7 linked regions of the Homo sapiens genome follow. The protein of the gene in region 6 purifies or fractionates together with the protein of the main gene of each other region. This does not show direct contact. Each region holds a gene or a part of one and is shown on either strand. Other genes may lie near its edges.

Region 1 (3,972 bases), on a different chromosome or scaffold from region 6:
CTGGGTGACAGAACTAGACTCGGTCTCAAAAAAAATAAAATAAGGGAATAAATGCAGAACGAATTTTAATACAAAAGGCCTTATCTCCAATTGATGGCTCTTTTTGCCCTGTTAATGATTGAATATAATTAAGGATCCATGTTAACTTCGACTTTTTTATAATCCCATGTATCCATCATTTTTCTAATCCCATAATTGATTTAGAATACTGTCTTCTATGGACCTAAAATCTTTTTCTGTCAGAAATTTCAGTGAGAAGGTATGTACATTCTCTCATAGGACATGTGCTAAAATTTTGATGATGAAGATTAATATGGCCTTTTTACAAGATTGCCGCACAAATTTGTACAATGCGTGGATAAAAATTTTTTTAAGTGAGTTGTTTAAAAGGCTCACTTAAAAAAATCAGTTGGGCATGATGAGGTTGAACTTCAAGTTATTTAAGTTGTTGACTTTTATTATAGGATCATTAGTTCCTGTTGTTTAAAACTCATGTGAACCTTTAAGATGGGCTGAAGAAAAGTGGATCTGTACTACAAAATGAGGAAAGGGCTGCCAGCTTAAAGTTGCTGTTTTTGAAGATTCTACAACAGATGGCTTTATGACCAACCATAAGCAGATCTTAAGTATCTAGTGAAGAATTTAACTGCTAACAAGGAAGAATTTGGTTTGATTTAAAAGTAATATCTTCAAGCCTGGGCAACATGGAGAAACCCCGTCTCTACTAAAAATAGAAAAATTAGCTAGGTGTGGTTGTGTGTGCCTGTAGTCCCAGCTACTCAGGAAGCTGAGGATCGCTTGAGCCCAGGACGCAGGTTGCAGTGAGCTGAGATTGCACCACTACACCCCCAACCTGGGCCACAGAGTGAGACACTGTCTCAAAAATACATACCTTCAGCAAATCAAGATTTTTTTTTTTTTTTTTTTTGAGACGGAATCTCACTCTGTCGCCCAGGCTGGAGTGCAGTGGCATGATCTTGGCTCACTGCAGCCCTCACTCCTGGGTTCAAGCGATTCTCCTGCCTCAGCCTCCTAAGTAGCTGGGATTACAGGCACACGCCACCACGCCCAGCTAATTTTTGTATTTTTAGTAGAGACGGGGTTTCACCATATTGGCCAGGCTGGTTTCGAACTGCTGACCTGGTGGTCCGCCTGCCTCGGCCTCCCAGAGTGCTGGGATTACAGGCGTAAGCCACCACGCCTGGCCAAGAAAATCAAGATTTACCTGGTTTATGTGTTGACCAGCTATACACAGAGAATTCTAGATTTTTTTCTAAAAATTATTATCAAACCCCCAATTTCACCAGTAGAAAAAGAGATCTTAAGATTTCTGTGTTTTTTTTTCCAGCATAACTCAGTTACTTATGGCTGGGAGAAAATATGTAGGGAGATAATCTAATACCTAATTCGAAGGAAGAAAATATCTAATTCTAAGTCTTGAGTTCTTCTCATCAGACCATAGCAGGATTTAACATTTAACATTTTTCAGAAGCTTCTAATAGACTTCATTCAGTTTTTTGTCCACAGCAGTGGCATTTAAATTACTGTACTTTAAGACATGGAATTGCTGGAGGCTTGGAAACTTGAGTGCAATTTCCCTAGTACGACCTCCAAGGAGAATAGAGCAAAACAGTGGTAGGAAAAACTCTCAAAATTTTACCCAATTGTATGTTTTCTACATTGTCAGTATCTAGTTTTATATAGTTAATATGTACTTCTAAAATTTCTGACAGTGTTTGGTGTATAAAACAGACCAAGCTCAAGATGTAAAGAAGATTGAGAAATTCCACAGTCAACTAATGCGACTTATGGTAGCCAAGGAAGCCCGCAATGTTACCATGGAAACTGAGTGAATGGTTTGAAATGAAGACTTTGTCGTGTACTTAGGAAGTAAATATCTTTTGAATTAGAGAAAGTGTTGGGACAGAAAGTACTTTATGTAACTAAGTGGGCTGTTCAGAAGCTTAGAGGTCATTTTTTGTAATTTTCTTTTTAATTACTTTAGAGAGCTAGGGATGCAAATGTTTTCAGTTAGAAAGCCTTTATTTACTTTTGGAAATTGAACAAGAAATGCATCTGTCTTAGAAACTGGAGATTATTTGATGTTAGGTAAAACATGTAATTGTTTCTCTGGCAAATTTGTATCAGTAATTTGAAAATGAGATATTAGGAAAAACCAATTCTTCTTAAATTTAGTTCATCTTTCTTTAAAAGAACATTAAATGTAACCATTTTGTCAGATCCATGTATTTTGGAGCATAAAATGTATGCTGTTGTGACCAATAAATATAAAATATGGTAATTGGAATTAACTCCACACCATAGTATGCATTGTTATACATACTGTGTACCTAATTATGTATAGCAGTGTAGTCTCAATTATATCTGAAAGTAATTGTGACTAACAAGTATGCTTTGCCTTATTTCCACATTTAAACTACCTGTTAATATAAGGGATTTGTAGTATCAGCTTGTTGAGCAATGACTTTGAATCTAGTTTTCAGTGATCAGAAGCAGCAGTTATTTGAGTGTATGAATGGAATGATGATCACTGTGCTATAATGTACTGAAACCACCATATTACAGAAATATTTACTACATATTTTCCATCTGTAGTTTCTCAGAAGGGCTATGGATTAGTTTGAACTGTCAAATCCTTGCATACTTCTGTGACACCCCTGCCCATTTTCTGTCTTTAATTAACCAAGGTGTTAGGTGTGACTGTCACAACTGTTATGTTTTCCAGTAAACTAGAAGTACGATATTTGATAATTATATTTGTATTTCACCACCTAAATGTAATGTTGATTCCTCAAGAATGAAATGAAGGCACTACATTGAAATATGTTTTGTATAAATTTGTCATGTTGAACAGCATTTTAGCATGGTAAGTTCCCTTAGCTATATGAATTTTGGCATGTTTCAGAGAGATCAGTAAATAAAATATTAGATAAAATATATATTGTTTGTGTTGAAGTTTTTAACTTTTCAGAAATTGTTGATTTCTGAGCTGGGATATACTATATTCATTTAGTCCAAAATGAGCCTAGTAATGCTGAAAGCAAATTTTTTGTTTCTCAGTACTTTATATTATATGACTTTCTCTGCACTATATGTTAATAGCAAGTTTGTTTTCTTGAATTAGAAAAGTAACATCAAATAGTATAGGATTATTTTGGCTTTTTGTTTTTTTTTCCCCCAGAATTAATGGGATCACCATCAGGGGAGGGGAGAGGCTTGACCTTTTTCCCCCTTATTTAACACTACAGAGATGACCTGAAAAGGAGAGACTGGCATTTGGGTTCTTTGAGTCCTGGTAGCGTGTAACAGAGTGGTTAAGAACAGACATTCCAAGTCAGACTGCCTGGCTTTAAATCCTGGCTCCACTATTTCCTAACTCTGTGGTCTTAGACTAGATACTTTTCTAAGCCTTCATTTTCATCTCTGGAAATGGGGCCAACAATAGTACTTTGCTTGTAAGACTGTTAAGATTAAACATCATGATCCAAGGCTGGGCACAGTGGCTCATGCCTGTAATCCCAGCACTTTGCGAGGCTGAGGTGGGCGGTTCATTTGAGGCCAGGAGTTTGAAACCAGCCTGGCCAACAAGGTGAAACCCCATCTCTGCTACAAATACAAAAATGAGCTGGACACAGTGGCACACTGTTGGGGTGATCAGGCCCAACACCAGGCCATGGGGGCTACAAAGTCCAGCAGGGTCAAAGGAATGAGAAAAGACGAGTGCATAAAGTGGGCCAGGCACGGTAGCTCACGCCCGTAATCCCAGCGCTTTGGGAGGCCGAGGCGGGCGGATCACAAGGTCAGGAGGTTGAGACCATCCTAACACCGTGAAACCCCGTCTCTACTAAAAATACGAAAAAAATTAGTTGGGTGTGGTGGCGGGCGCCTGTAGACCCAGCTACTTGGGAGGCTGAGGCAGGAGAATGGTGTGAACCCGGGAGGCAGAGCTTG
Region 2 (4,333 bases), on a different chromosome or scaffold from region 6:
ATGATCGCTCCAGAATAGGTTAAAGTGGTCAGAAATGGAAGTAAAGATTCTGGCTGGACTGTTGCAGTAATCCAGTTGAGATAAAAATATTGGTGGCTTGAAACTCAAGAGAAGGGGTCAAATAAATATATTCTGGATATATTTTGAAGGTAGAAGAGGGAACAGAATTTGGGGCAGAAGTCCAGGATGACACCACTGTTTTTGGCTTGAGCACCTACCTGGAACGATGGAATTGCCATTTTGAAAGATATGGAGAGCTGTAGGTTTGGTGGGGTCGGGGAAGAGTCAGTTCTCTTTTAGGTTTCAGATTTGTTTTTTTTGTTTGTTTTTTTTTTTTTTGAGACGGAGTCTCACTCTGTCGCCCAGGCTGGAGTGCAGTGGCATGGTCTCGGCTCACTGCAACCTCTGCCTCCCAGGTTCAAGCAATTCTCCTGCCTCAGCCTCCCGAGTAGCTGGGATTACAGGCGCCCGCCACCATGCCCAGCTAATTTTTGTATTTTTAGTAGAGACGGAGTTTCACCGTGTTGGTCAGGCTGGTGTTGAACCCCTGACCTCGTGATCCACCTGCCTCGGCCTCCCAAAGTGCTGGGATTACAGGTGTGAGCCACCATGCCCGGCCTCAGATTTGTTTTTTTATACAACTAAGTAGAAATATGTGAGGGGTTGAGTTCAGAGGTAAAATTTGGGTGATGGTGGGTATTGTGTGAGTACAGAGTATAGAATTAATGGAGGGGTTGGGGAGGCAGACACGTCAGGAGAATTTAGTTTGAGGGGGTGGGAGCTTTCAGAAGGTTTTAGAGGGTGCAGTGGTGGGATGGGAATTACCTCAGGCTCATTTCAGATCTGTGGGGTCTTCTTTGATGGGGTGGGGGGATGTCATCATGAGGCATTAACATTGGTGGGAGGGTTGAAGGCACCTGGAATAGATTGGGAATTAAGTGATGAGAATGTGCCTCTGGACATAGGTGGACTGCATTGATTTTAGGGACTGCTATTTTCTGGATGGAGTGGAAAGAGGATTTATGTGAGTTGGAGGAAACTTTGAGGAAGCTTGGTGTGTTCTGAGATCCTAAAGGGTTGGGGAGGGGATTCTAAGGTACTGGAAGGGTTAATCGAAGGGGTTTGCGGCAGCAGATAGCTTTGTTTGAAGTGGGGCAAAGTTGGTGAGGTTTAAACTGGAATGTAGTTAGGGAACTTTCAGAGGGATGGGGATGATTTTTCTGAGAAGCAGTGAAGAATGGATGGGGGCCTCTGAGTGGGAGATGACCTAAGGGACAAGTCAGGGTCAGGGCATGGAATTTGTGGGAGGTAGGAATTATTCTGAGGGAGTGGAGCTGTACCAAATTTGGTGGAGAACATGAAAAGGATTGGCTGGGGGTTGCAGGAGGGAGGGAAGAGGTTGTTTGTAATTTGTACTCTATTTTTAGACAGTCTTAGAGAGTTTATTAAAGTGTTTTTTGTCCATTTTCAGCCGAGGTTTTTAGAAATTAAAAATTTTTTTGTGTGAGTACATAGTAGGTGTATACATTTTGGGGGTATGTGAGATACTTTGATACAGGCATACAATGGGTAATAATCACATCAGGGTAAATGGGGTATCCACCACCTTAAGCACTTATCCTTTGTGTTACAAACAATCCAATTATATTCTTTTAGTTGCTTTGAAATGTACAACAAATTATTGTTGACTGTAGTCACCCTGTTATGCTATCAAATACTGTATCTTATTCATTGTATTTAATTATATTTTTGTATCCATTAGTCATCCCTCCTTCCCCTCCACCCCCCACTACCCTTCCTAGCCTCTGGTAACCCTCAGTCTACTATCTGCATGAGTTCAATTGTTTTAATTTTTTTAGTTCCCACAAATAAGTGACAGCGTGCAAAGTTTTCTTTCTGTGCCTGATTTATTTCACTTAACATAATAACATCCAGTGCCCTCCCTGTTGTTGTAAATGACAGGATCTCATTCCCTTTTTTTTGTAGACAGGGTCTCTCTGTCGCGCAGACTAGAGTGCAGTGGTGTGATCACAACTCACTTCAGCCTTGACTTCTTGGGCTCAGGTGATCCTCCCACCTCAGCCTCCCGGTAGTTGTGACTATAGCACGTGTCACAAGCCCAGCTAATATTTTAGTACAGGTGGGGTTTCACCAGGCTAGTCTCCAACTCCTGGGCTCAAATAATCCTCCTGCCTCCCTGCAAAGTGCTGGGATTAGAGGCGTGAACAGCAATGCCCAGCCTTTGTACCACAATTTCTATTTTTTTTTTTGAAACGGAGTCTCGCCGTGTCGCCTAGGCTGGAGTAGGCTGGAGTGCAGTGGCGCAGTCTTGGTTCACTGCAAGCTCCGCCTCCCAGGTTCACGCCATTCTCCTGCCTCAGCCTCCCTAGTAGCTGGGACTACAGGTGCCCGCCACCACGCCCGGCTAATTTCTGTATTTTTAGTAGAGACGGGGTTTCACCTTGTTGGCCAGGATGGTCTCAATCTCCTGACCTCGTGTACCACAATTTCTTTATCCATTTGTCTGTTGATAGACATATGGGTTGCTTTCAAATCTTGGCTATTGTGAAGAGTGCTGCAATAAACATGGGATTTATTGCAGTTTTTTTTCTTTTGAGACCGAGCCTCGCTCTGTTGCCCAGGCTAGAGGACAGTGGCACGATCTCAGCCCAGTACAATCTCCACCTCCCAGGTTCAAGCGATTCTCCTGCCTAAGCCTCCCAAGTAGCTGAGATTACAGGCACCTGCCACCACGCCCGGCTAATCTTTGTATTTTTTAGTAGAGATGGGGTTGCTGTGTTGGCCAGGCTGGTCTCAAACTCCTGGCTTCAGGTGATTGGCCCTCCTTGGCCCCCCAAAGTGTTGCAATTACAGGCGTGAGCCACCACACCCAGCCTGATTTATTTTCATTTGGGTATATACCTAGCAGTGGGATTGCATTTTTACCCGAGTCTTTTTTTTTTTTTTTTTTGAGACGGAGTTTCGCTCTTGTTACCCAGACTGGAGTATGGTGGCGTGATCTCAGCTCACCGCAACCCTTGCCTCCCAGGTTCAAGCAATTCTTCTGGTTCAGCCTCCCAAGTAGCTGGGATTACAGGCGTGTGCCACCATGCCCGGCTAATTTTGTATTTTAGTAGAGACGGGATTCCTCCATGTTGGTCAGGCTGTGAACTCCTGACCTCAGGTGATCCGCCCGCCTTGGCCTCCCAAAGTGCTGGGATTACAGGCATGAGCCACAGCCCCCGGCCTTCACCTGAGTCTTATAGCAGCTCTCTGGAGTCGGAAGGGCAGTGATTTCCTTCTCTGTTCAGATGAGGAAGGAGGCTCCACAGAGCAAATTGACTTGCCTCTAAGAGGGCTCTAGGTGGGATAGGAGGGTTCTAGGTGGGATAGGAGAACTCTGGAGACTGGAGTTCCTTTATGAAACAGAAGCCCTGGAAATGGGCAGGCTGATAAAATGTACAAATTGTGGGGCATTTTATAAGACAGTTATCCTACTTCTCTTCCAAAAGTCAGTTTCATGGGAAAAATAAGTGAAGGGACTGTTGTGGATTAAAAGAGAGTAAAGGCCGTCACAGTGACTCAGCCTGTAATCCCAGGACTTTGAGAGGCCGAGGTGGGTGGATCACCTGAGGTCAGGAGTTCGAGACTAGCCTGGCCAACATGGTGACCGTCTCTACTAAAAATACAAAAAAAATTAGCCAGGTGTGGTGGTGGGTGCTTGTAATCCCAACTACTTGGGAGGCTGAGGCAGGAGAATTGTTTGAATCCAGGAGGCAGAGGTTTTAGTGAGCCAAGGTCACACTATCGCACTCCAGCCTGGGTGACAAGAGCGAAACTCTGTCTCAAAAATAAATAAATAAAATAAAATAAAGTAAAGAAGCAGCTTCCTAGAGCAGATTTGGTTGCTTAAATTGAGGCCAAGTTTCTGGAGTTTTTATTGATAGTTGACAATTACAACTAAAATTTTTTTTTCTCGCTCTGTTACCCAGGCTGGAGTGCAGTGACGCAGTGACGTGATCTTCAGCTCACTGCAACCTCCACCTCCCGGGTTCAAGGGATTCTCCCGCCTCAGCCCCCAAGTAGCTGGGACCACAGGCGTATGCCATATCACTCAGCTAATTTTGTGTGTGCATGGCGTATGCCGTAACACTCAGCTGATTGTGTGTGTGTGTGTGTGTGTGTGTTGTTTTTTTTTTTTTTTTGTGATGGACTCTCACTCTGTCGCCCAGGCTGGAGTGCAGTGGCACAATCTTGGCTCACTGCAACCTCCGCCTCCTGAGTTCAAGCGATTCTCCTGCCTTAGCCTCTGGAGTAGCTCGGATTACAGGCG
Region 3 (4,333 bases), on a different chromosome or scaffold from region 6:
AAATACCTAGGAAAACAACTAACAAGGGAAGTGAAGGACCTCTTTAAGAAAAACTATAAACTGCTGCTCAAAGAAATCAGAGATGACACAAACAAATGGAAAAACAGTCCATGCTCATGGATAGGAAGAATCAATATTGTGAAAATGACCATACTGCCCAAAATAGTTTATAGATTCAGTGCTATTCCCATTAAGCTACAATTGACATTGTTCACAGAATTAGAAAAAACAGTTTTAAAATTCATATGGAACCAAAACATAACCCAAATAGCAAAGGCAATTCTCAGCAAAAAGAACAAAGCTGGAAGCATCATGCTACCTGACTTCAAACTATACTATAGGGCTACAGTAATCAAAACAGCATGGTAGTTGTACGAGAACAGACACATAGACCAATGGAACAGAATAGAGAACCCAGAAATAACACCGCACACCTACAACTATCTTATCTTTGACAAACCTGACAGAAACAAGCAATGGGGAAAGGATTCCCTATTTAATAAATGGTGCTGGGACAGCTGGCTAGCCATATGAAGAAAATTGAAAGTGGACCCCTTCTGATATGGTTTGGCTGTGTCCCCACCCAAATCTCATCTTGAAATGTAGTTTCTATAATCTCCATGTGTCATGGGAGGGACCTGCTGGGAGGTAATTTAATCATGGGGGGCAGTTACTCTCATGCTGTTCTCATGATAGTGAGTGAATTCTCATGAGATTTGACGGTTTTATAAGGGGCTTTTCCTCCTTTTGCTTGGCACTTCTCCATGCTGCTGCCATGTGAAAAAGGACATGTCTGCTTCCCCTTCTGTCGTGATTGTAAATTTTCTGAGGCCTCCCAAGCCATGCTGAACTATGAGTCAATTAAACCTCTTTCTTTTATAAATTATCCAGTCTTGGGTATGTCTTTATTAGCAGCATGAGAGCAGAGTAAAACACCTTCCTTACATCATGTACAAAAATCAACTCAAGATGGATTAAAGACTTAAACGTAAAACCCCAAACTCTAAAAACCCTAGAAGAAAATCAAGACAATATCATTCAGGACATAGGCTCAGGCAAAGATTTCATGATTTCATGACAAAGATGCCAAAAGCAACTTCAACAAAAACAAAAATTGACAAATGGGATCTGATTAAACTAAAGAGCTTCTGCACAGCCAAAGAAACTATCAACAGAGTAAACAGACAACCTACAGAATGGGAGAAAAGTTTTATAATCTATTCATCTAACAAAGGCCTAATGTCCAGCATCTACAAGGAACTTAAACAAATGTATAAGAAAAAAAGAACCCCATTAAAAAGTGGGTAAGGAACATGAATAGATAATTCTCAAAAGAAGACATACATGCAACCAAGAAACATATGAAAAAAAGCTCAACATCACTGATCATTAGAGAAATGCAAATCAAAACTACAATGAGATACTATCTCACACCAGTCAGAATGGTGATTACTAAAAAGTCCAGAAACAACAGATGCTAGCGAGGTTATGGAGAAAAAGGAACACTTTTACACTGTTGGTGGGAGTGTAAATTAGTGCAACCATTGTGGAAGACAATGTGGTGATTCATCAAAGACATAGAGGCAGAAATACTGTTTGACTCGGCAATCTGATTACTGGGTATATACCCAAAGGAATATAAATAATTCCATTTTAAGGATACATGCACGTGTATGTTCATTGCAGCACTATTCACAATAGCAAAGACATGAAGTCAACCTAAATGCCCATCAGTGATAGACTGAATAAAGAAAATGTGGTACATATATACCATGAAATATTATGCAGCCATGTATAGATGAGTTCATGTCCTTTGCAGGGACATGGATGCAGGTGGAGGTGATTAGATTATCCTCAGCAAACTAATGCAGAAACAGAAAACCAAACAGTGCATTTTCTCACTTATAAGTGGGAGCTGAATGATAAGAACACATGGACATATGGAGGGTGGAAACACACACTGGAGCCTGTCAGAGGGTGGGGAGTGGGAGGAGGGAGAGCATCAGAAAGAATAGCTGATGGATGCTGGGCTTAATACCTCGGTGATGGAATGATCTGTGCAGCAAATCACCATGGCATACATTTACCTAATAAACCTGCACATCCTACCTATATACCCCTGAAGTTAAAATATTGCAAACAGAAAAAACAAAACTTTTTTGTTGTTGGTTTTTTGCATTTCTTTTTAGGTTCAGTTTCATTGAGTTCTGCTCTGATCTTTATTCCTCCTACTAATTTTGGGTTCAGTTTATTCCTGGTTTTCTTCCTTAATATGTGCTGTTAGGATGTTAATTTGAAATATTACTACTTTTTTGATGTAGGGATTTATTGCTATGGATTTGCCTCTTAATGCTGCTTTTGCTGTATCCCTTAGGTTTTGGTATTTTGTGTTTCTATTTTCATTTGTTTCAAGAAATTCTTAAACTTCTTAATTTCTTTCTTTACTCATTTGTCATTCAGGAACATGCTGTTTAACTTTCATGTATTTGTATAGTTTCAAATGTTCCTCTTGTTATTGATTTCTAATTTTATTCCATTGTGGTCACATAAGATGATATGATTGTAATTTTTAAAAATTATTTGAGACTTGTTTTGTGACCTAACATATTGTCAATTCTGGAGAATGTTCCATGTGCTGGTGAAAATAATGTGTATTTTGCAGCTGTTATATAAAATGTTCTGTAAAGGTCTGTTAGGTCTGTTTGATTTATGGTGTGGTTTAGATCCAATGTTTCTTGATTTTCTGTCTAGATCATCTGCCTAATGCTGAAAGTAGGGTGTTGAAGTCCCCACCTATTATTGCTTTGAGGTTTATCTCTCCCTTTAGCTTTAATAATATTAGCTTTATATATCTGGGTGCTCCAACATTGGGTCCATATATATTTCCAATTGTTATGTCGTCTTGCTGAATAAATTCCTTTATTTTTACATAATGTTCTTTTTTATATAGCCTTTGTCTTAAAGTCTGTTTTATCTAATGTAAGTATAGCTACTCCTGCTTGTATTTGGATTCTGTTTGCATGTCTTTTTTCCACTCCACTTTCAGTTTATGTGTGTCTTTACAGGTGAGATGAGTTTCCTGTAGGTGGCATATAGTTGGTTTTTTGAGATGGAGTTTCGCTCTTGTCACCCAGGCTGGAGTGCAATGGCATGATCTTGGTTCACTGCAACCTCTGCTTCCCCGGTTCAAGCAATTCTCCTGCCTCAGCCTCCTGAGTAGCTGGGATTACAGGTGCCCGCCACCATGTCCAGCTAATTTTTGTATTTTTAGTAGGGATGGGGTTTCATCATGTTGGCCGGGCTAGTCTCAAACTCTTGACTTCAGGTAATGCACCCTCCTTGGCCTCCCAAAGTGCTAGGATTACAGGCGTGAGCCACCATGCCCAGCTGGGTCTTATATTTTTAAATCCACTTGGCCAGTCTATATCTTTTAATTGGGAAATTGAATCCATTTACATTCAAGATTATTTGATAGATGAGAACTTACATCTGTCATTTTATTGATTTTTTTTTTCTGCTTGGTGACAGTCTTGCCTTTATTTCTGAAGGATAGTTTTTCTGGATATAATATTCACTGACAGTTATTTTCTTTCAGTACTTTGAATGTATCACTCCATTTTCTCTTGGCCCATAAGGTTTCTGATGAGAAATCTGCTATCAGTATAAGGGGGATTCCCTTATATTTGGCTTGATGCTTTTCTCTTGCGTGTTTTTATCATTCTTCCTTTGTCTTTGCCTTTTGATAATTTGACTATAACATTCCTTAGAGAGGATGTATTTGGGTTAAATCTATTTGGGAAATTTTGAACTTCTTGGATCTGAATCTCTCTCTCTCTCCCAAAACTTGGAAAGTTTTCTGCTATTATTTTATTAAATATGTTTTCTGTGCCTTTTTCTTTCTTTTCTCCTTCCAGAATTTTTATAATGTGAATGTTTTTTGCTTACTGATGTCTCCTAAATCCTGTAAACTTTATTTTTTTAAAATTCTTTTTCTTTTTGTTTTTAAAATCCTCATGTATTATTTCAAAAGACTTGTCTTCAAGTTCAGAAATCCTTTCCTCTACGTTTTCTATGCTGTTGTTGAAAAATCGTATTTTTTATTTCATTCATTGACTTCTTCAGCTCTAAAATCTCTTTTTTTATGATAGCTATCTTTTTGTTGAATTTTTCATTTAAATCACAAATTGTTTTCCTGATTTTATTGAATTGTTTATCTGTATTCTCTTTTATCTCATTGAGTTTCCTTAAGATTATTATTTTGAATTCTTCTTCTGGCATTTCATATATTGCCTTATAATTGGTTATGTTACTGGAGAATTACTGGGTTGATTTG
Region 4 (4,333 bases), on a different chromosome or scaffold from region 6:
CCAGGGCCTCCCTAGAGCATCAGTTGTATTTTTATACCTAGGAAATATTTTTCCTTTTTGTAAGAATGATAATGCAGATGAACTGTTATTCAACCTGGCACCACCATCTGTACTCAAAAAGTCATTATTTCCTTACATTTTATAGTTTTTTTGTTTAAGAGACAGGGACTTGCTGTGTTGCCCAGGCTGGAGTACACTGGCATGATCTTGGCTCACTGCAGCTCATTCCTGGGCCCAAGCTATTCTCCCACCTCAGCCTCCCAAGTTGCTAGGACTATCTGAAGCTACTATGCCCAGCTTAATCTACTTTTTTTTGTAGAGGCAGAGTCTTCTTGCCTAGGCTGGTCTTAGACTCCTGGCTTCAAGCAATCTTCGCACCTCAGCCTCCCAAACTGTTGGGATTATGGGCTTGAACCACTGAGCCACTGTGCCCAGCCTATTTTTATAGTTTTTTTGAGTCTCTGTTGCCCAGGCTGGAGTGCAGTCTCGGCTTATTGCAACCTCCACCTCCTGGGTTCAAGCAATTCTTCTGCCTCCTTCTCCCAGTAACTGGATAACAGGCGTGCGCCACCATGCCTGACTAATTTTTTGTACTTTTAGTAAAGATGGGGTTTCGCCATGTTGGCCAGGCTGGTCTCCAACTCCTGACCTTAAATGATCCACCCACCTCACTTCCCAAAGTGCTGGGATTACAAGCGTGAGCCACTGCGCCTGGCTTACAGTTTTTAGTTTGTAGATTCATTATATTCTTTTTTTTTTTTTAACTTCATGGTAGGCTGAGGATTGTTGCCATTTTCAAGTGAAGACATGGAGGCTTCTAAGTGACTTGCCCACAATGAATAATGGCAGAGCTGTGACACACATTCAGTGCTGTGTTAAGTGTTCCACCTCTCTAGCATTGCTATTTTATGTTGTTTGGTAAAGAGAATATAATGTTTTGATTAAGAACACCATGGGGTGAGGCAATGGACCAAATTAGTATTTCTGTTGCTTTTCTTGTTTATTATGCTTAAGTCTTCATTTTTAATTAGTTTTTACATTTTTTTTTTACTAAAATGGTTTTTCCTACACATCTTGGTCACCTTAGTGGTTCTCTTTGGAGGGGTGTGGTAGCAGTAATTTTGATGGGATTAAGGTTTGTTATGGGCAACGGCGGTGTTTACACAGATAGACTAGAACTTTGAAGGTAATATCTGGTGACTGTGCTTTTTGGTTTTTATACCTTTGCTACTTTATCATGAGGTCTAATCTATGTATTAAATAATGTTTGCTGTCACTTAATCAAGGAGGAATTGAAAGAAAAGGCCAAGATTGAAGATGAGAAAAAAGATGAAGAAAAAGAAGACCCCAAAGGAATTCCTGAATTTTGGTTAACTGTTTTTAAGAATGTTGACTTGCTCAGTGATATGGTTCAGGTAATTTTATTCATAAATGTACCAGTTTACTTTGAAGGGTAAACCTTTGAAGTTTAAATGGCTGTGATCACTGTTCTCTTCAGTGTTGATCTTTCTAGAATGATTGCTTACTTTTGAAATAGCTAATATCTGTAGAAGAGAAATTACAGCTTTGATTAATGTAATCAAATAAATTAGTTTATTTTAAAAAATGAGATAATGAAATGGTCCCATTGATAATGGCTCATTATCGACTGGTGTTTTCTTATAACCCTGTGCCTTTTGTCTTTACATACTTAGTATGGAAGTATGATGGGAAAGTTAATCTTATAGCTGCAATTATGCAATTCCCTTAACTCTTCCAGGAGAAATTTGCATTTTAAAAGAATACCATAAAGATGTTAAACTCATTCACAATGGTTACATTCTCTGGCAAACCATAACTGTTGTCACCTTTGGGAAACTGCCTCAAGCATTTCTTGAGTGAGCCCCTACCGTCTACATTGTAGTAGTACATGTTGCCCTGTCTTGTCATTGTTGGAAGTTACATGGAGAAAAAGAAATGATCTTCACACAATTACTGCTTATTACAATTCTACTTTAGCAAAGTGGAAAAGGAACGACCAGGAGGAAGGGGACAAGCAGCTGGAAAAGGCAGCAATTACAATCAGGAAACATTTTAAAAGTAGATATGCCTTATTTAGACTTGATTTTGGATTTTTCAACCTATATAATAATTCAGTTGTCTATTTGGACACTTTTTCTCTACCAGTGGCAGTAGAACTACAGTATAAATTAGCTTTAGTATAAGCCATAACCTGGAGAGTAAGTCTTAAGGTTCATAATTGCTATACAAAACTACTTTGAAATATATTATGTCTCAGTCAGCTGGTGTTTGTGTAGTAACAGAACACAGTCCTCGAATGCCATGTTATTCATTTTTATTATTTTTTTAATTTGAAGGAACACGATGAACCTATTCTGAAGCACTTGAAAGATATTAAAGTGAAGTTCTCAGATGCTGGCCAGCCTATGGTAAAAGAACTTTGAAATATTTATAATTTTGTAACATGCTTACAGGTAGATAAATAGAAGCTTTTAAAAAGATAACATTCAAGGGTAAGGTTGGTGCTCTTTGTTATAGTGAATAAATATTTGGATGCTGCTAATTGTGAGGCAGTATTTATTCCTTTTCCTCCTTCTGATCATAAATTGTGTTTGAAACACAGACAATCCTTGTTCCTGGATAAGTGGATAAAAATAATGCCAAGGGAACATGAATAAGTACTTTTTCTGCATTAAAAGGCATGAGCTTGGGAATTACACAAAACTGATGTTAGAGGATGCCCACTCCCTAATGAGGAAAGATCAGCCAACAAGCTGTCCACCAAACCACCAGAATTAATGTCAACTAAGGGCAAAACTGCTAAGAATATAGGCTGTAGATGCTTAAGGTTGGGCTTTTTCTGTGTCAAGTTCACGTTTAGTCTACTATTTAAAAGCCTGATTCCTCCAGTAGTTGGGGAGTAAGGGAGGCAACATGGTCACTTTATTCAGGAATGCCTAGCCTGTTGTGTAAACATGTTAATTATTTAATAGATGTAAATTGAAACTAAGTTCTATTCAGTTCAATTTGTACCTCATTATTATTTTAACGTAATTTTTTTGATTTTAACATAATTTGGGGCTCATCTGACAGTCTGTCCCATTCTTAAATATTTCATGGCTGGGTGCAGTGGCTCACACCTGTAATCCCAGCACTTTGGGAGGCCGAGGTGGGTGGATCACTTGAGGTCCGGAGGTCAATACCAGCCTGTCCAACGTGGTGAAACACTGTCTGTACTAAAAATACAAAAATTAACTGGGTGTGGTGGCACACACCTATAATCCCAGATAATTGGCAGGCTGGCGCACCAGAATCACTTGAATCTGGGAGGCAAAGGTTGCAGTGAGCTGAAATTGTGCCCCTGCACTCCGGCCTGGGCAACAATGCAAGACTCAGTCTCAAAAAGAAGATTGTATTTCAGAGTAGAAAAAAAAATTATCATTTAGAATATTTATAAAAACAGATGAAGCTGTGTTTACTAAAGTACTGAAATATGTGAGGTAGGTATTTAACTGATTTTTATGCTTCCTCTCCCCAGAGTTTTGTCTTAGAATTTCACTTTGAACCCAATGAATATTTTACAAATGAAGTGCTGACAAAGACATACAGGATGAGGTCAGAACCAGATGATTCTGATCCCTTTTCTTTTGATGGACCAGAAATTATGGGTTGTACAGGGTGAGTTTAATTTTACTACCTTAACAAAATGTTTTTTCTGTTTTTGTTATACTTGATTTGTATACTCGGTTATTTTCAGTTACATATGTACATAGTCTGTCTCTGAACATTTTGGTAATATGTTTTCTGAAAAGTGCTTATCAAGTTTCCTGTAATTCTCCTTGGACCCATGACTGTCTCACATATATTTTTGCAGAGGAATGCTTCTTTAAATTATACTATGTGTTTGTGCTAATTGTAAATGTGTTTATTTTAAATATTTGCTTAGAAATAAAATTTTTCCCTTTATACTGCTATAGAAAACATTTGAAGCAATTCACCCTTCTAAAATTTGAAATCTAAATAGAACATTTACTTCTAAAAGTTTAGCAGTTGAAAGATTGTCAATTGTAATAGATTTTTCTTCTTTGTTTTGCAAGGTGCCAGATAGATTGGAAAAAAGGAAAGAATGTCACTTTGAAAACTATTAAGAAGAAGCAGAAACACAAGGGACGTGGGACAGTTCGTACTGTGACTAAAACAGTTTCCAATGACTCTTTCTTTAACTTTTTTGCCCCTCCTGAAGGTAAATAATGTTTTAGCTTGAGTATTAACGGTTGTTTTATAAAAAGCATTGCTTAGCTTCTTATTCATTGTAATTTCTTTTCTCAATTTT
Region 5 (3,722 bases), on a different chromosome or scaffold from region 6:
CAGAAATGTCTTCCCAGCTGTGATGGTTTCACATTGTCATCGTCGTCCCCCCGGGAGGTTGGAGCATCAGGGGCCTGGACTCACTGGACTCTCCCCTCTCAGAGGTGCGGAACTATATCTGTGACGAATGTGGACAAACCTTCAAGCAGCGGAAGCACCTTCTCGTCCACCAAATGCGACATTCGGGAGCCAAGCCTTTGCAGTAAGTGTGAGTCAGGACCCCCTCCCAGGGCTGTGGCCCTCGCACCTTCTTATCTGCCTCTGTCCCCCAGGTGTGAGGTCTGTGGGTTCCAGTGCAGGCAGCGGGCATCCCTCAAGTACCACATGACCAAACACAAGGCTGAGACTGAGCTGGACTTTGCCTGTGACCAGTGTGGCCGGCGGTTTGAGAAGGCCCACAACCTCAATGTACACATGTCCATGGTGCACCCGCTGACACAGACCCAGGACAAGGCCCTGCCCCTGGAGGCGGAACCACCACCTGGGCCACCGAGCCCCTCTGTGACCACAGAGGGCCAGGCGGTGAAGCCCGAACCCACCTGAGGACGGCAGTGAGGATGAGCACCTCTAGCAGCCTGGACTCCGCAGTGGCTGTGTCAGCCTCACCCTTCGTGTGCACCCGCATGGGAGGGTCGGAGGGTGCTGCCCGCCCTTGGTGCTGGAGGCGGGCTTGGTGTCCGGCTCAAGTAGCCTTCCTCTGCTCTGGGACCAGTGGTTTATTTTCCCGCAAACGCTGAGTGACTCGGGGCCGGACAGTTCATAAATAATTGATTCCTTTCCCCACTAAAGCAGTCGAGGAGATTTGTAATCCACTTTTTAGTGCAACAAGAGCTCCATGTTATGCTTGTAATAAATTATTTACACGGGAGCTGGGCTGGTGTGCAGTGGCAGGTCCCGTCAGAAGAGATGAGGCTCCTGGGACAGGTCAGCGTCAGGGGCAGCCTGCTGTCTGCTCTGGAGGGCGGCGCTCACCTCTGGGTCGCAGTCCCCACGATCAGCCAGCAGCTGTGAGAGAGGAGCAGGTCCTCAGCCCATGCCGCCCACTAGGCCTCAGACCACAGGGGAGGGGCTCTGGCAGAAATAGTCGAGTTGTATTGCCAGCCAGGCAGGCACATGGCCCAGGCAGCTGTCAATTCTCATGTCCCCCACATGGCCCAAGGTGGGCATCTTGACGTTACCTCTGCCACGTGTGAGAAGCTCTTTTTCGGGCACCGAGGTATTAACTGCAGCAGAAAAAGACGAGCTTTTGTTATCAGTTCCACGGGGTTGCCCTAGAGAGAAAACAGGCAAACTCACAGGTTAGAAGACATACAGAAACAGGGCTGGTGTGTCCCCCATAGTCTGCATGCTGTGCCGGAACATTCTTTGGCAGAAGGAGCCTCCGGCTGGGGGGAGCTCCCCTGGAGGTGGGACTGGCCCTTGCACCTGCCTGACCCTTGAGCTCCAGGCTCCTGCCAGCTGGAGGTGAAACTGTGCTTGTATCCCCAGCCACGAAGAGCTGGACCAGCTTCAAGTACATGTCCACAGCAACATGCAGGAAGGCCTCTTCCCTGATGGCCGCGTCTTCATGGAAGTAGGAGAGAAGACTAGAGGTAAAGACATAGTGACAAATGGCTACAGACTGCTGGAAAGGTAGCAGGTGATGCCAAGGGATACTGCTCATCTGTGGAGCAGAGGCACAGACAACCCTTCCCATCTGGCGGGACCCAGAGGTGCTGAGATGGGGGTCTGGGAAACACTGCCCAGCCCTGACCAGCCCTGTGGGTGGAGGTACCTGTAAAAAGCGAAAGGCAGCAGCCTGGTGTGCTGATCCGGGGCCACACGGAGGAGGAGCCGCCCCAGCCTGAGGTCTGCAACACCAAGAAGTGGCTCAGGCAACTCTGGACATCTCTGCCTATTATCAGTGCTGGGGACACCCCTGGGGGTCGGGACGTGTACCCTGGGAGGCCTGGCTGTGGGGATAGTGTGGGGCGAACAGCCTGAGCTGAGGATACCCAGGTACCTGTCAGCAGCTGGGAGAGGATGGGGGGGTCGACCTCTTGCAGGAGGGTGGGTGTGGTGCAGAGAGAGGCAGTCCCCATGATAGGCCCATTGGTCCTGGGGTTGACCAGTGAGCCAGTAAATTATCTTATTGCTTTAAACAAGTTTGTGCTTAATCTGTCCCAACTAAAATGGAGCTTATAAACTTACTTAGCAAGGAACCTCAAGGAGGGCTCGTTCTTAACCATTTGCAAGATGCCTCTGAAAAGAGCGGCCCTCCGCATTTGTGCCTCAGCAGCGTGTTTCTTACCACTCTCTGTCAACTGAAAGAGTGCCAGCCAGGATATCTTCCTCTTCTCTAAACACTCGAGGATTGCTGCACAAACGTGGAAAGCCTTTGGCAGGTCTGTGGTGCTCTGTAAACCGCAGGAGACCAACCCTGAGAATGGCCGACCTGGTGCTCCCATGGGTAGGAGGGTACAGCCCTCAGCACAGAAGAGGGCATTTCCTCTTTGCTTATTGTAAGTCTTAAAACTGGTGACAGTTTTACCTATAGAAGGTAATACTGGGCCTCTGGACAGAAGAGGCTCAGGTAGGAGGCCAGGGACTTCGAGCACCCACACCAAGGCTGCTGCACCACGTCCTCAAATAAGACATTAAAAGAAAGGCCCACAGGCCGGATGCAGTGGCTCATGCCTGTAATCCCAACACTTTGGGAGGCCGAGGTCGGCGGATCACTGAGGCCAGTTCAAGACCAGCCTGGCAATATGGTGAAACCCCGTCTCTACTAAAAATACAAAAATTAGCCGGGTGTGACAGACTCACGCCTGTAATCCCAGCTACTCGGGAGGCTGATGCAGGAGAATTGCTTGAACCCAGGAGGCTGAGGTTGCAGTGAGCTGAGATCACACCACTGCACTCCAGCCTGGGTGACAGAGTGAGACCCCCATCTCAAAAAAAAAAAAAAAAAACCCACGGCCTGGGAGTTCTCACTCACACTTCCGCAAACACAAGGAGCTCCTGAGCTAGTCTGGAAACCCTGACTTGGAAGCTGGCTGCCTGGTGCCCCTGCCTGGCCCACAGTGGGAGAGGACACCTTGGCTGGTAAGGTCTGACTTACATTTGAGGTCAGATGTGACGACAGCAGGCCCATCAAGGAGAAGAAGAAAAGGAAAACCAATAGCTGTAAATAAAAACGTGCACTTATTATTACATTAAAATTACCTGTGCTGTCATTCTAAATAAGGCTGACACATTCCTCTTTAATTGAAATTTTTTACATCTAGGCCATAAATCCTTTAAGTGGATCTTAGAAAACTTTCCAATCACTTCTAGAGAGACAGCTTAATTGAGAATTAATTACTACTGGCTGGGTCATTTCACACTTGCCTTTAAACAAAGCTAGAAACAGTTTGAAAAAGTGACAAGAGCCAGAAAGAGAAGACTGCTGCGGTCTCCTTGGCTGTGCGCAGTCCCAACTCAGCATCATCTCCCTGCAAGGCCTCCTGTCAGAAGTGTTTGTAAAATCCTTGAAGATAAGCCCACAGGCTCCAGCCTAAAGTAGGGCCTGACTGGGCAGGGTCTCTGTGGACACTCCTCGCTGCACACTAGGGTCCTAAGGCCCTGGAGCCACTAAAATCCCTTCTAACAAAACTACACAAGAAACCTGAAGACGTACTCAGAAGAACCCCTGCAGGGTGGTTATAATCACCAAAACCCTGGGCGCTGCTGTCGATCCAGCT
Region 6 (4,866 bases):
TCCTGAAGCCATGGGCGTGGATGACATTACCCTGAGAGGGTAAAGAGAGAAAGGAGGGTCTATCACCAAGTCCCAAGGAACCTCAATATTTAAGAGATAGGCCCAGGAAGCAGAGTCTGCAAAGAAGATTGAGAAGGCACAACCAGAGAAGCAAGAGAATCAGGAAACAGATGTCATGAATGCCAAGGGAGAAGAGAACTTCATGAACAAGGGAGTGAAATGCTGCAGAGGTCCCATTATTTAAGCCCCAAAGAGGCTTTCATTAACCTCAGAGCATGTGGTTTTCAGGGGATGGAGGACAGGAAGCCAGATGCAGGGAGTCAAGCAAGAAGCTGATTGTGAACAAATGAAGACAGCCAGTGCTGACTCCACTAGATCCTGGACATCTGCAAAGGATGTGTTTCAAGGCTTTTCAGTTTCTCCAAATTCTCAAATAGCATTAATTTTCCCCAGGACTTCCTCCTACAATCTCACAGGATTCCCAGTACACATGAGTTACACAGTTGTGAATGGAGGTAACCAAGGCATTGTTGAAAATGGATGCGAGAGGTCAGCTAGGCTCATTTGCTTGCTAAAATAACTCACGTCTACTCACTAGCTTCCAGGTTTATCTGATCATTTGAGACCTCAAAAAAATGACAAATGACTGCAGGTTACAGTCTTTGGGCTTTCTCTGAAACAAATGAAGCCTTGGATGAGGCAAAGTCCTTAAAGCCAATGAATCCTTTAAATAAGATTAGCAGGGAAGGAAAGCAATGAAATTCATGGCCATCTCCCCCAACATTGCCAGACTGAGTAAAGTGAATGAACCATTCAATCAAACTTCTCTGGGCACACTGTGGGCCAGGTCCTTCAGCTGTGAAATAGAGACACAAAGCTGAATCAGACACACTCCCTGTCTTTCACAAGTTTTTAGACTAATGTGAGAAACAGAAATGGAAACACGTAACTACAATGTGATAAGTACCATGATATTGACATGTTCAAATTGCTACAGCAGCAAACTGGAGGAAGTACCTAACTCTGAGGATGGTACAGAATAAAGAAGGCTTCCAGAGGAAGGGGTATTTGAGCTGGGTCTTGAGAGACAAATAGGACATTGATACGTACATTGGGAAAACAGTGAGTAAAGAAACAGAAACATGAGAAACTAAGAAATATGGAACAGATGGACAAGATTGCAAATCTCCAAAAGGCAGAGGTTATACATGATGCTTTTACATCCTAAAAGCATAAAAATAAATATGCTAAAAATAAATAAATCTAAATAAATAAATAAATAAAAGGCACCACCACTCACCCACCCACACAAGCGAGAACCCTGGTAGTCTTCTCAATTACACCTTTTCTTTCACCTTTCAGATACAAGCTATGACTACATCCTCAATTCTGCCTCTGAAATTTGGCTAGGTTTAAAAAGTTAGGAGATCTAGGATCTAGTCCTAATGCTGTAACTAACTCCACTAACACAAGGTGAAACTCTAGGTAAGTTCCAACCCCATTCCCTTATTTGTAAATTGGGAGAAGAGGGATGTTTTCTCAAAATCTGAGATTCCCAAGGTTCCCTCTCAAGCCAAGGGCTTCCACAGATTGTACCATGAGCCCATGATTAAATCCCATCTTGTACTACCTCGATGATTTGACTTCTAGTTTCCACTGTTAGGCTAAATGTGTTAGAGGATGGTCTTAGTTGCCTCCCCTCCACACTCCCCCTGCCCCCTCGCCCCCGTAAATAAATGTTTGCTGAGTTTTAAGTCACCTGTGACACTCTATGAACGCTCTCTATTCTAACCATATGGTTTTTCTGCTTTTCTGAACCTGGGCTATACTATCCCAACGATGGACTCTTTGCTCAAGTTCTCTCGGCAAGAATGCCATTGTCTCCTAAGTGGCTGTGGCAGTACCTGGCACACAGGAAGTACTCAGTATATGTTGGTTACAGGAGAGCTCTGTTTAAATCTCTGCAGTTCCCTTTCATCAGAGAGAGATGCAAAAGTAATGGCAGTAACAAGACAAGTGAATAAAGTCCCAAGAAGAGAGACCTCTGCTTAATATAAGGAAGCTTTTCCACAGCAGAAAGTAGCAAGTGCTCTGTCACTGGAGGCATACAAGCCCAAGGAGGCAGGGCTACTGTCAGGCCTGCAGCTCTGATTCCAATTCTGCAGCAAATCATCCCCTGCTTAGGGGATGAATGGGCACCAGTGAGCTAGACAGACTGGCCAAGGGAGACCTGTGATGTTTTCTGCACCTGCTGTGACCTCCCAGATGTGATCTTCCTGCTAGGGCCAGTCCTGAGTTTCTGTTGTCCACATCAGAGAACCCCCACACCAAGAACAAGCCCAGGGCCTGCCCTCAGTCGAACTGACCTCCCTGGGGTGCAGCCTGCCCCTCCAACCTGCAACCATCTGTCCCTGCAGGTTTGCAGCCCAGGATCTGAAGCCAATTGCAGAAGGGAGGAGGTCAGAACCAGGGAGGGGCCTGGGGTCCTCCAGGCAGGGCTCAGGCTACAGGAGAACCAGAGGGGTCCTTTCCTACAAAAAAACAGCCTCCACATGAGGCTTTCTGTCCACAGAGCAGTGCATGGGGAGGAAAGGGTGTCCTCCATCCTGACTGGTGGGCCTGTGGGTACCAGAGGATGGAAGGGGCGGGGGGTGGGGTAGGGTGGGGGTGGGGGAGCAAGGGGTGGAGGTGTCTGCACCAGGGAGAAAAGAGCCCTTCAGACAAGATGGGCCACAATATTCCAGAGTCCCACTCAGCACGCACCACCACCACCACCCTCGGCCGCAGCGTTCAGCACCCTCCGCCAACACACACAAGCTCCCAAACCCCGCGCTCCCCTAAGGAACCATCACCCATCCACCCGCGCCTCCCCGCCTCAAAACAGGGACCTCACGTGAGCAGCCACAGCCCGAAGAATCCCCCTGCTGCTCTCACGGACATGGACACGCCTCACGTGGGCAGAGAGAGGCACAGCTTTTGAAAATCATCTGTGCCCCCACCCACAGACGCTCCGACCCAGACCCGGGCTGACAGGAATACAAACGCACCCTTGGGGCCCGCCCGTCGCACTCACCGCGTTGGAACAGGATGCGAGGGCAAAGCTCGGACTGCGGCCACTCTGAAGGGCCCGCGGCGCTGCTACTGCTGCCAGCGCCCGTCCGCCCGGCCCTGCCCGCGCCTCCGCCTGTCCCCGCGCCGGCGCCGCCGCCGGACTAGCCGCACAGGCCGGAGGGAGGGGCCGGGGCGGGGCTGCGGACCGGCCGGGGGAGGGGGTGACTCCAGTAGGGAAGACCCACCCACGCCCCGCCCGCCGCCGCGGAGGCCCCGCCCACCCCGCCTGCCCACCCCTACCGCACCCGCACGCCCCCCCGCCAACGCCTCCACCTCCTGCGGACGCTGCCTCCTTGGTGCTGCTAGGGAGCCGGCGGGCCGGCGAGCCGGATCCCGGATCTCGGATCCCGGATCTCCGCCAGCTGCCTCCGGCTCCGGGAAGGGCGGTGTAGTCGGTCTCAGGGATTGAGATGAGACTCCGTCAAGAAAAGGCAGCTGGGGCAGCAGGGATTTCGGACTCTGGGAGCCTGTCTGGGCCGCCTGCCTCCTGGAGGCGCCCTTTCCGGCTTCCTTGGAGTGCTCCTATGGAATATGCTAGTCTATCGGCTGACCAGGAAGACGTAGAAACCGTCTGTACCTCAGCACGATCTCTGGGCGGCAGAAGGGCAGTACCCAGAACTCTGGGAGAAGGAGTTAAGGGGTAGAAAGGTGGGGGATTTGATTAGGCTTTGGGCGCTTCAGGAGCCCCCTCCTGAGGAAATTCTGGTTCAGACCATCCAGCGACTCCCTTCCTCACACCAAAGACACTGGACAATTCTCAGAATCATCGCCTTGTGCAAAAAGCAGCCCCAAGTGGAAAATAATTGTAACAGTTTACAGGGACTGAGTGGTTATTATGTGCCGACACAGAACTAGCCACTTTACATATATTATTTAATAGTCAGTAGGTAGCATCTTTTATTAGCCCAATTTTACAATGGGAAAAAATAGGGATCTTGCTCCCCAGACGTTAGCCCTCATCACTCAGCTAGAAAGTGGCAGAACCTGGAGTTGAGCCCTGTTTTTAGGCCCTACAACCAGCATTTGGAGACTCGGTACCTTTCATGTTGAAAAATCCCCAGTGGCCCATTAAGTGGCAGCTCATATAAGGACCACCTTCCCTGCCCCAAAAATCAAGCTCTAGTCAGATGATTGCAGGCTGATCAAAGCCCAGAAGACTGTCTGGGAGCTGCAGTATCCATGACAAAGGGCAAAGTCATGCCTGTGAGGATCCCTGCACTATGGGAATCTGCTGAGTGGGTCTTCCCCTTCCTCCAGCCTTCCAGAGGTGGGGAAAATCCTGAAAAATTCTGGTTTCCTTGGCCAAAGGGCATACAGGTGATGACACCTAGCCCTGACTAAACCAAAGTGCTGTTAGGGATCTTTCTTGTGACCTCTCCACAAGGTTCAGATTTAGGCTCAACACCTGGGTGCAGCAGGAGCTTTGGGAACCGCCTCAACCTCTTATCCACCTGAGTTCAGCACATAGCACAAGATGCTCCAGTGCTTGTGAAGGAAACCCAGACGGGGATCATGCTTGCAGTTTTGGGCTGGGGCTACTATGCTACCCAAGATGAGGGAACTGGAGTCTAGATGACACTATCTTAAGCCTCAGAGGACTACTTTTCTCAACTCTATACTTCTCCCATGCAGTCAAATTTCTGCTTAAAACACTTCTCAGCTCCTTCTCCAGAGGGCAAAAGTCCTTAACCAGCCTGCAGTCTTCATCTAGCCACTCCCTCTTCATTTTTCATTCCAAGCAATTCCTCCCAGTTC
Region 7 (5,013 bases), on a different chromosome or scaffold from region 6:
ATCGCTTGAACCCGGGAGGCAGAGGTTGTGGTGAGTCGATGTCGCGCCACTGCACTCCAGCCTGGGCAACAAGAACAAAATTCCCTCTCAAAGAAAGAAAGAAAGTAATGGGAAAGGAAAAGTGACCTGAGGAAGTGAGTGCTAACAGAGTGACTGTAATAATGAACTACAGAAAATTAAGTTAAAGACAATCTAGAAGCCAAGGGCTAATGGTTACAGTGAAAGTCTGGAGGAGTCAACGTATTGAAGGAATCAATACCAAATCCTATTCCTCCTCAAGTTCTTCAGCAAATGATGTTAAGTGCTGATGACGATGGTCACAGAATGTACACATTTAAAAAATGGTGCTGACGCAGTTCTTAGAAATTACAACTTTCAGGTGCATCAGGAGAGTGAGTCGAAGACATGCAAATTTCAAAAGCGACTGGACGATATTATTTATATTCAGTCTGATAAGGGATTTTGTTAACTTAGCTGACTTTTTAAAAATGCATCCTAAAAATACATACAATCATGAGAAAAACATGAGACAAATTCCATGATTAGGACATCCTACAAAATACATGACCAGTACTCCTCAAAACTCTCAAGGTCACCAAAAGTAAGGAAAGTTTGAGAAACTGCCACAGCCACAAGAGGCATATAAGGAGACATCATAACTAAATGTAATGTGGTATTCTGGATGGAATCCTGGAACAGAAAAAGGGTATTAGGTAAAACCGAAGGAAATCTGAATAAAATGTGAACCTTAGTTAATAACAGTGTAAAATATTGGTTCATTAATTGCAACAAATGTACCATATTAGCATGAGATGTTAATAATAGGGGAAACTGGATGCTGGGTATATGGCATTATCTCAATTTAAATAAACTACATTAAGAAAATAATATCTATTTTTAAAGGTGTAGTGAATAAAACAATGGCCACCCATATATTTAACACCCGGTTTAATAATGGTCAATACAGTTAAAGCCTCCCTTTATTGTCCCCTCCTTACCAGATATGACTGCTTTTCTCAACTTGATTTTCATTCTCTTGTATTTCTTGACTTCTTTAACTACATATGTATGCATAACTAAGCAATATATAGCATTGTTTTACAAGTTTTAGAGTTGAATGTATATGAATTGTCATACTATTTATTTTTCTACATCTTTCTCTTTTTGCCTCATCACATTTCTGAGTTCAGTCTTCTTTTATTGGCGTATAATACTACATCCTAACATCCCATAAGGTATTTATTCTGTTATTGATGGACGTTTCTAATTTTTTGCTTCTACCCACAGCGCTGTTACGTACATCCTTGTTCACTTACCAAAGTTTCTACAAGACATATAGGTAGGAGCAGAGTGCTGGGGTTTAGTAATTGAAAACTTTTACTAGATTTTGCCACATTGCTTTCCCAAAGAGGTTTTAACATTTGCGCACCTACTAGCAGGTGCGTATGTTTAGACGTGTGGAGGAGAAACTATTTAAAGACATACAAACTAGATAATATACTTGCTTCATTCTCGTTTGACCTTCGTACCCAAGCAATTATTTCTGCAAACAAACAAATAAACAACTACTAATAGCACTTCCCGCACCGCCAGCCGCAGTTTTCCCTGCGGAGACGCGGATACAAGGCAGCTTCCGGCGAAGGCGGTGACGCAAAGGATGGCGTAAGCACGCTCGGGACGACGGCGTCCTCTTGATCGCCCTTGAAGGCCCCTTTCCGGGCTGTCTGACACGATGCAAGTGTCAGCTTGTGTTGGCCGGTTGCCTTTCTTTCGCAAGAGGGGAAAATATCCTCACAGACTTTCTGTGTTCTCAGAGACGATCTTCTTCCCTAGAAAGAAGTCGCTTACGGTTGGCGTTTCCCTCAGGCAGCGCCGTGGGCAGCCCACAGGCCCTTGTAAGGCGCGCGCCGCGGCCCCGCCTCTTTCCTTTCGGCCGGAACCGCCATCTTCCAGGTAGGGCCTACGCGTGGCTCCCGGGCGCTAGGTGTTCGACAGACTTGAACCGCGACCTTGTGGCCTCAGAGGTCGTTCATTGGGACCGTGGGGAGACTCTCTAACCTGTTTGAGGTCCATTGGCATGGGCGGGTTAAACCATGTTCTGCCAGACGGGGAGCAGCGTGCGCCGGGTCGGGTCTGGGCCGTGGGCTGAGAACCGGACTGCGATGTTGCGGCCCTGCGGGGGGACATTTGCGAGAAAGACGAGACTGAGTCGCTTGGGGTGAGGCGACTCGAGTTAATCTTTAAAAGACTTCGTTTTATGTTCCCGTGGCTGCATCTCCGGTACTGTGGGTGGCCCCTCTCACATAGGCTGTGTGGGGGCCGCGTGGCCTGATGCCTTTCTAACTCCTTTCAGTGTGGCTTTTTTATTCCAAATCTTGCGATGATGTTGGGTGAGGACTTAAGGGGTAGTAGGAATGGGTTTAAAGTCAGGCGTCGGCTTTAATCTTCTGTGAAGCCTACAGGTGTGAAAACCCGGGCTCTCGGTCGGAGAGTGGGTCCCGGAGTCGTCCTGGGTGATGAACCCTCACTGCCCTTAGTTAATGCATAAGACGATTTCCGACTGTTTTTAAAATTTTGACCCCACATGGTGATCGGACGAAGGGAAAGTGTTTTGAGGTTGCAACACCAATATTTGCACCAAGAGGAGATACTGTTTTGCGAATTCTAGGGCAGCATGCTTTGAGTGAAGGGAAACATTTAGCCATAGTTCATCATTTTGTCTAGTTTGTGGACGTCAACAGAGTCGAGCAAACTGCAGGTTGCTCTTTATGGTGGATCCTAGTTGCCATGATTTTAATACTCTTACAAACTGTAAAGCATCGTTTTGAAAAGTGCCTTCAGTTTTAAGTGTATGGGGTCCATGCTTAAAATGGATTCCAAACTCAGAAAGATGGATCTAGTGGAGGATTATGGGCTCTGGAATCAGGAATGAGTTAACTGATTATGCCACTTGGTGATTCCACAAAGTGACTTGAATCTACACAGTATCACCCTTTGTGTACTAACTTAGCACAAGTTTTTGGAACTTTATACACATCTAAAGGCTTTGGGGATTGGAACAGAGTACCTGGCATTTAAAGGGTTCATCCATTGTAACAATGGTTTGACTTTGGTGAGTTAGGTGAAACATGTCTTCTTGCTATACAATTTTTATAAAAATGGTACTTTGGGAGCCATTCTTAAAGGATTGTTGGTAAACTTAGAAACCAAATTGTGTTAGAATATTGTCAACACGTCAAGCCTGACTGCTGTATTTTACCTTATGGTAGGAGTAATGGCCAGGAATGGCATTTCTGCCCTATAATGACTAAAGAGCTATCAAAACTATTGTTTTGGCCTTTTTGGGAAACAAAGGAAAGGTTAATTTCTAAATGCCTGTAGGTGAATTCTTAGATAATGATAAATTAGCTGCCGGTTACTACTGAGCACTTTACACGGGCCAAGCATTGCTGAGTTCTTTGTAGACATTACCTCAGCTACGAAAGTGTTCACCCCTATTTTACAAATGAAGATGAGAGATGAAATGTGGGTGTCCCAGCTAGTAAGTGGCAGAGCCTATGTCAAATTTAGGTCAATGATTATAAAGCCTGGGTTCCCCTCTCTTCTACCCTATATACGTTCGTAGTAAATAATCAGAAATGTGAAGTGGCTTGAGATTTCTGATAGTTAAATAGATGATGTTTGAGATACACCATCACGGAAAATTTGGTTGACAAGAAAGGTTTAATTCACATAAAAATGTAAGGCTGTTTTATTGTGTTCTCCACTAAATTATCTTCTAGTTAGTAATTACATGCCCTTGGCATTCTAAATTGGGTTCTACAGATAGAGTGTGGTAGAAGTCCTGTTGTGTTTTTATATTCTCATAGAGAAAGGGTACTAGTTTGGATTCTCGTATCAAGTTCTGCTCCTTAAGAGTTTTGATGTTATAGAACTTGGGCAGTTTTGCCAAAAGACCTTACTTGCTAAAATAATGATTTTTTAACCTTTCAACAGAACTAACTGCTTGGTGATCCAGCTTTCAGTTTGCAGTTCTCACTTCGCTACTGAAATGTGAACATTTGAAATTACAGGGGTTTGGGGCAAATGCCAGTTTTCAGTCGTATTTGACTGTTCTGCTTTCTGGTTTCAGTAATTCGCCAAAATGACGAACACAAAGGGAAAGAGGAGAGGCACCCGATATATGTTCTCTAGGCCTTTTAGAAAACATGGTAAGTAGGTTTACCTTCCTTGAGAGAAGCATGGCACACATTTGTGTTCTGTTGTGTTCAACATGTGTTGTAGTTCATAGAATGTGTATCAATAGAATTAAATAACTAGCGTCTACCCAGCTTATTTCGTGATAAGGTAAATAAATTACCAAAATTATATGGTGATTTTGTGACTAAGTATTGATGCAAGATTAAACTTTGGAGAGAGGTTGTGATTTAGTAGGCTGATTGTGCTGTCAGGAGAAATTGTCCATTGGGAAGATAATAAGCATGTAACCATCAAAAATGATATATGTGTTAAAAGCTAGTAAAATTGCATTTCTTTTACTCTAGATTTTTAGCCTTAATACTCACTATACCAAATTTATTTTTGTAGGAGTTGTTCCTTTGGCCACATATATGCGAATCTATAAGAAAGGTGATATTGTAGACATCAAGGTAAACATAAAATTGGGAAAATAACACTACAGAAGATAGAAAAGTTGGATTTAATCTAGTGTAGGAATTCAAATACTAGTGTATGTTGCATCTGTAAGAGTATAGAATGGATTTTTTTTTTTTTTTTTTTGGAGACGGAGTTTCACTCTTGTTGCTCAGGCTGGAGTGCAATGGCATGATCTCACCTCAACCTCCGCCTCCCTCCCGGATTCAAGCAGTTCTCCTGCCTCAGCCTCCCAAATAGCTGGGATTACAGGCGTGCACCATGATACCTGGCTAATTTTGTATTTTTAGTAGAGAAGTGGTTTCTCCATGTTGGTCAGGCTGGTCTTGAACACCTCGGGTGATCTGCTGGACTCAGCCT

What was found.
Region 1: the proteins of TRIM3 (region 6) and SRP9 purify together in Homo sapiens (affinity purification with mass spectrometry, with the first as the bait; one large-scale study listed by BioGRID). This does not show direct contact.
Region 2: the proteins of TRIM3 (region 6) and SAE1 purify together in Homo sapiens (affinity purification with western blotting, with the first as the bait; one study listed by BioGRID). This does not show direct contact.
Region 3: the proteins of TRIM3 (region 6) and CD200R1 purify together in Homo sapiens (co-immunoprecipitation; one large-scale study listed by IntAct). This does not show direct contact.
Region 4: the proteins of TRIM3 (region 6) and NAP1L1 purify together in Homo sapiens (affinity purification with mass spectrometry, with the first as the bait; one large-scale study listed by BioGRID). This does not show direct contact.
Region 5: the proteins of TRIM3 (region 6) and ZNF276 purify together in Homo sapiens (co-immunoprecipitation; one large-scale study listed by IntAct). This does not show direct contact.
Region 7: the proteins of TRIM3 (region 6) and RPL21 purify together in Homo sapiens (affinity purification with mass spectrometry, with the first as the bait; one large-scale study listed by BioGRID). This does not show direct contact.

The regions. Positions count from the first base shown.
Region 1 is NC_000001.11:225,787,507-225,791,478, forward strand, and holds the end of SRP9 (signal recognition particle 9 kDa protein), read left to right. Parts: intron 1-1,733; coding exon 1,734-1,853; 3' UTR 1,854-2,958; downstream 2,959-3,972. UniProt on the Homo sapiens protein: Component of the signal recognition particle (SRP) complex, a ribonucleoprotein complex that mediates the cotranslational targeting of secretory and membrane proteins to the endoplasmic reticulum (ER).
Region 2 is NC_000019.10:47,133,542-47,137,874, forward strand, and holds part of SAE1 (SUMO-activating enzyme subunit 1), read left to right. Parts: intron 1-4,333. UniProt on the Homo sapiens protein: The heterodimer acts as an E1 ligase for SUMO1, SUMO2, SUMO3, and probably SUMO4. It mediates ATP-dependent activation of SUMO proteins followed by formation of a thioester bond between a SUMO protein and a conserved active site cysteine residue on UBA2/SAE2.
Region 3 is NC_000003.12:112,933,604-112,937,936, reverse strand, and holds part of CD200R1 (cell surface glycoprotein CD200 receptor 1 isoform a precursor), read left to right. Parts: intron 1-4,333. UniProt on the Homo sapiens protein: Inhibitory receptor for the CD200/OX2 cell surface glycoprotein. Limits inflammation by inhibiting the expression of pro-inflammatory molecules including TNF-alpha, interferons, and inducible nitric oxide synthase (iNOS) in response to selected stimuli.
Region 4 is NC_000012.12:76,053,115-76,057,447, reverse strand, and holds part of NAP1L1 (nucleosome assembly protein 1-like 1), read left to right. Parts: intron 1-1,286; coding exon 1,287-1,415; intron 1,416-2,357; coding exon 2,358-2,429; intron 2,430-3,538; coding exon 3,539-3,678; intron 3,679-4,097; coding exon 4,098-4,243; intron 4,244-4,333. UniProt on the Homo sapiens protein: Histone chaperone that plays a role in the nuclear import of H2A-H2B and nucleosome assembly.
Region 5 is NC_000016.10:89,737,704-89,741,425, forward strand, and holds the end of ZNF276 (zinc finger protein 276), read left to right. Parts: exon of another isoform or gene 1-17; coding exon of another isoform or gene 18-102; coding exon 103-202; exon of another isoform or gene 203-272; coding exon 273-543; 3' UTR 544-897; coding exon of another isoform or gene 898-1,005; 3' UTR 1,006-1,178; coding exon of another isoform or gene 1,179-1,271; 3' UTR 1,272-1,425; coding exon of another isoform or gene 1,426-1,586; 3' UTR 1,587-1,774; coding exon of another isoform or gene 1,775-1,850; 3' UTR 1,851-2,290; coding exon of another isoform or gene 2,291-2,396; 3' UTR 2,397-3,100; coding exon of another isoform or gene 3,101-3,163; 3' UTR 3,164-3,222; downstream 3,223-3,722. Other genes in the region: FANCA (Fanconi anemia group A protein), read right to left, coding at 898-1,005, 1,179-1,271, 1,430-1,586, 1,775-1,850, 2,291-2,396, 3,101-3,163. UniProt on the Homo sapiens protein: May be involved in transcriptional regulation.
Region 6 is NC_000011.10:6,470,718-6,475,583, forward strand, and holds the start of TRIM3 (tripartite motif-containing protein 3), read right to left. Parts: upstream 3,225-4,866; 5' UTR 3,074-3,224; exon of another isoform or gene 2,941-3,073; coding exon of another isoform or gene 2,894-2,940; intron 2,532-2,893; coding exon of another isoform or gene 2,367-2,531; intron 1-2,366.
Region 7 is NC_000013.11:27,249,633-27,254,645, forward strand, and holds the start of RPL21 (large ribosomal subunit protein eL21), read left to right. Parts: upstream 1-1,925; 5' UTR 1,926-1,953; intron 1,954-4,132; 5' UTR 4,133-4,144; coding exon 4,145-4,211; intron 4,212-4,587; coding exon 4,588-4,649; intron 4,650-5,013.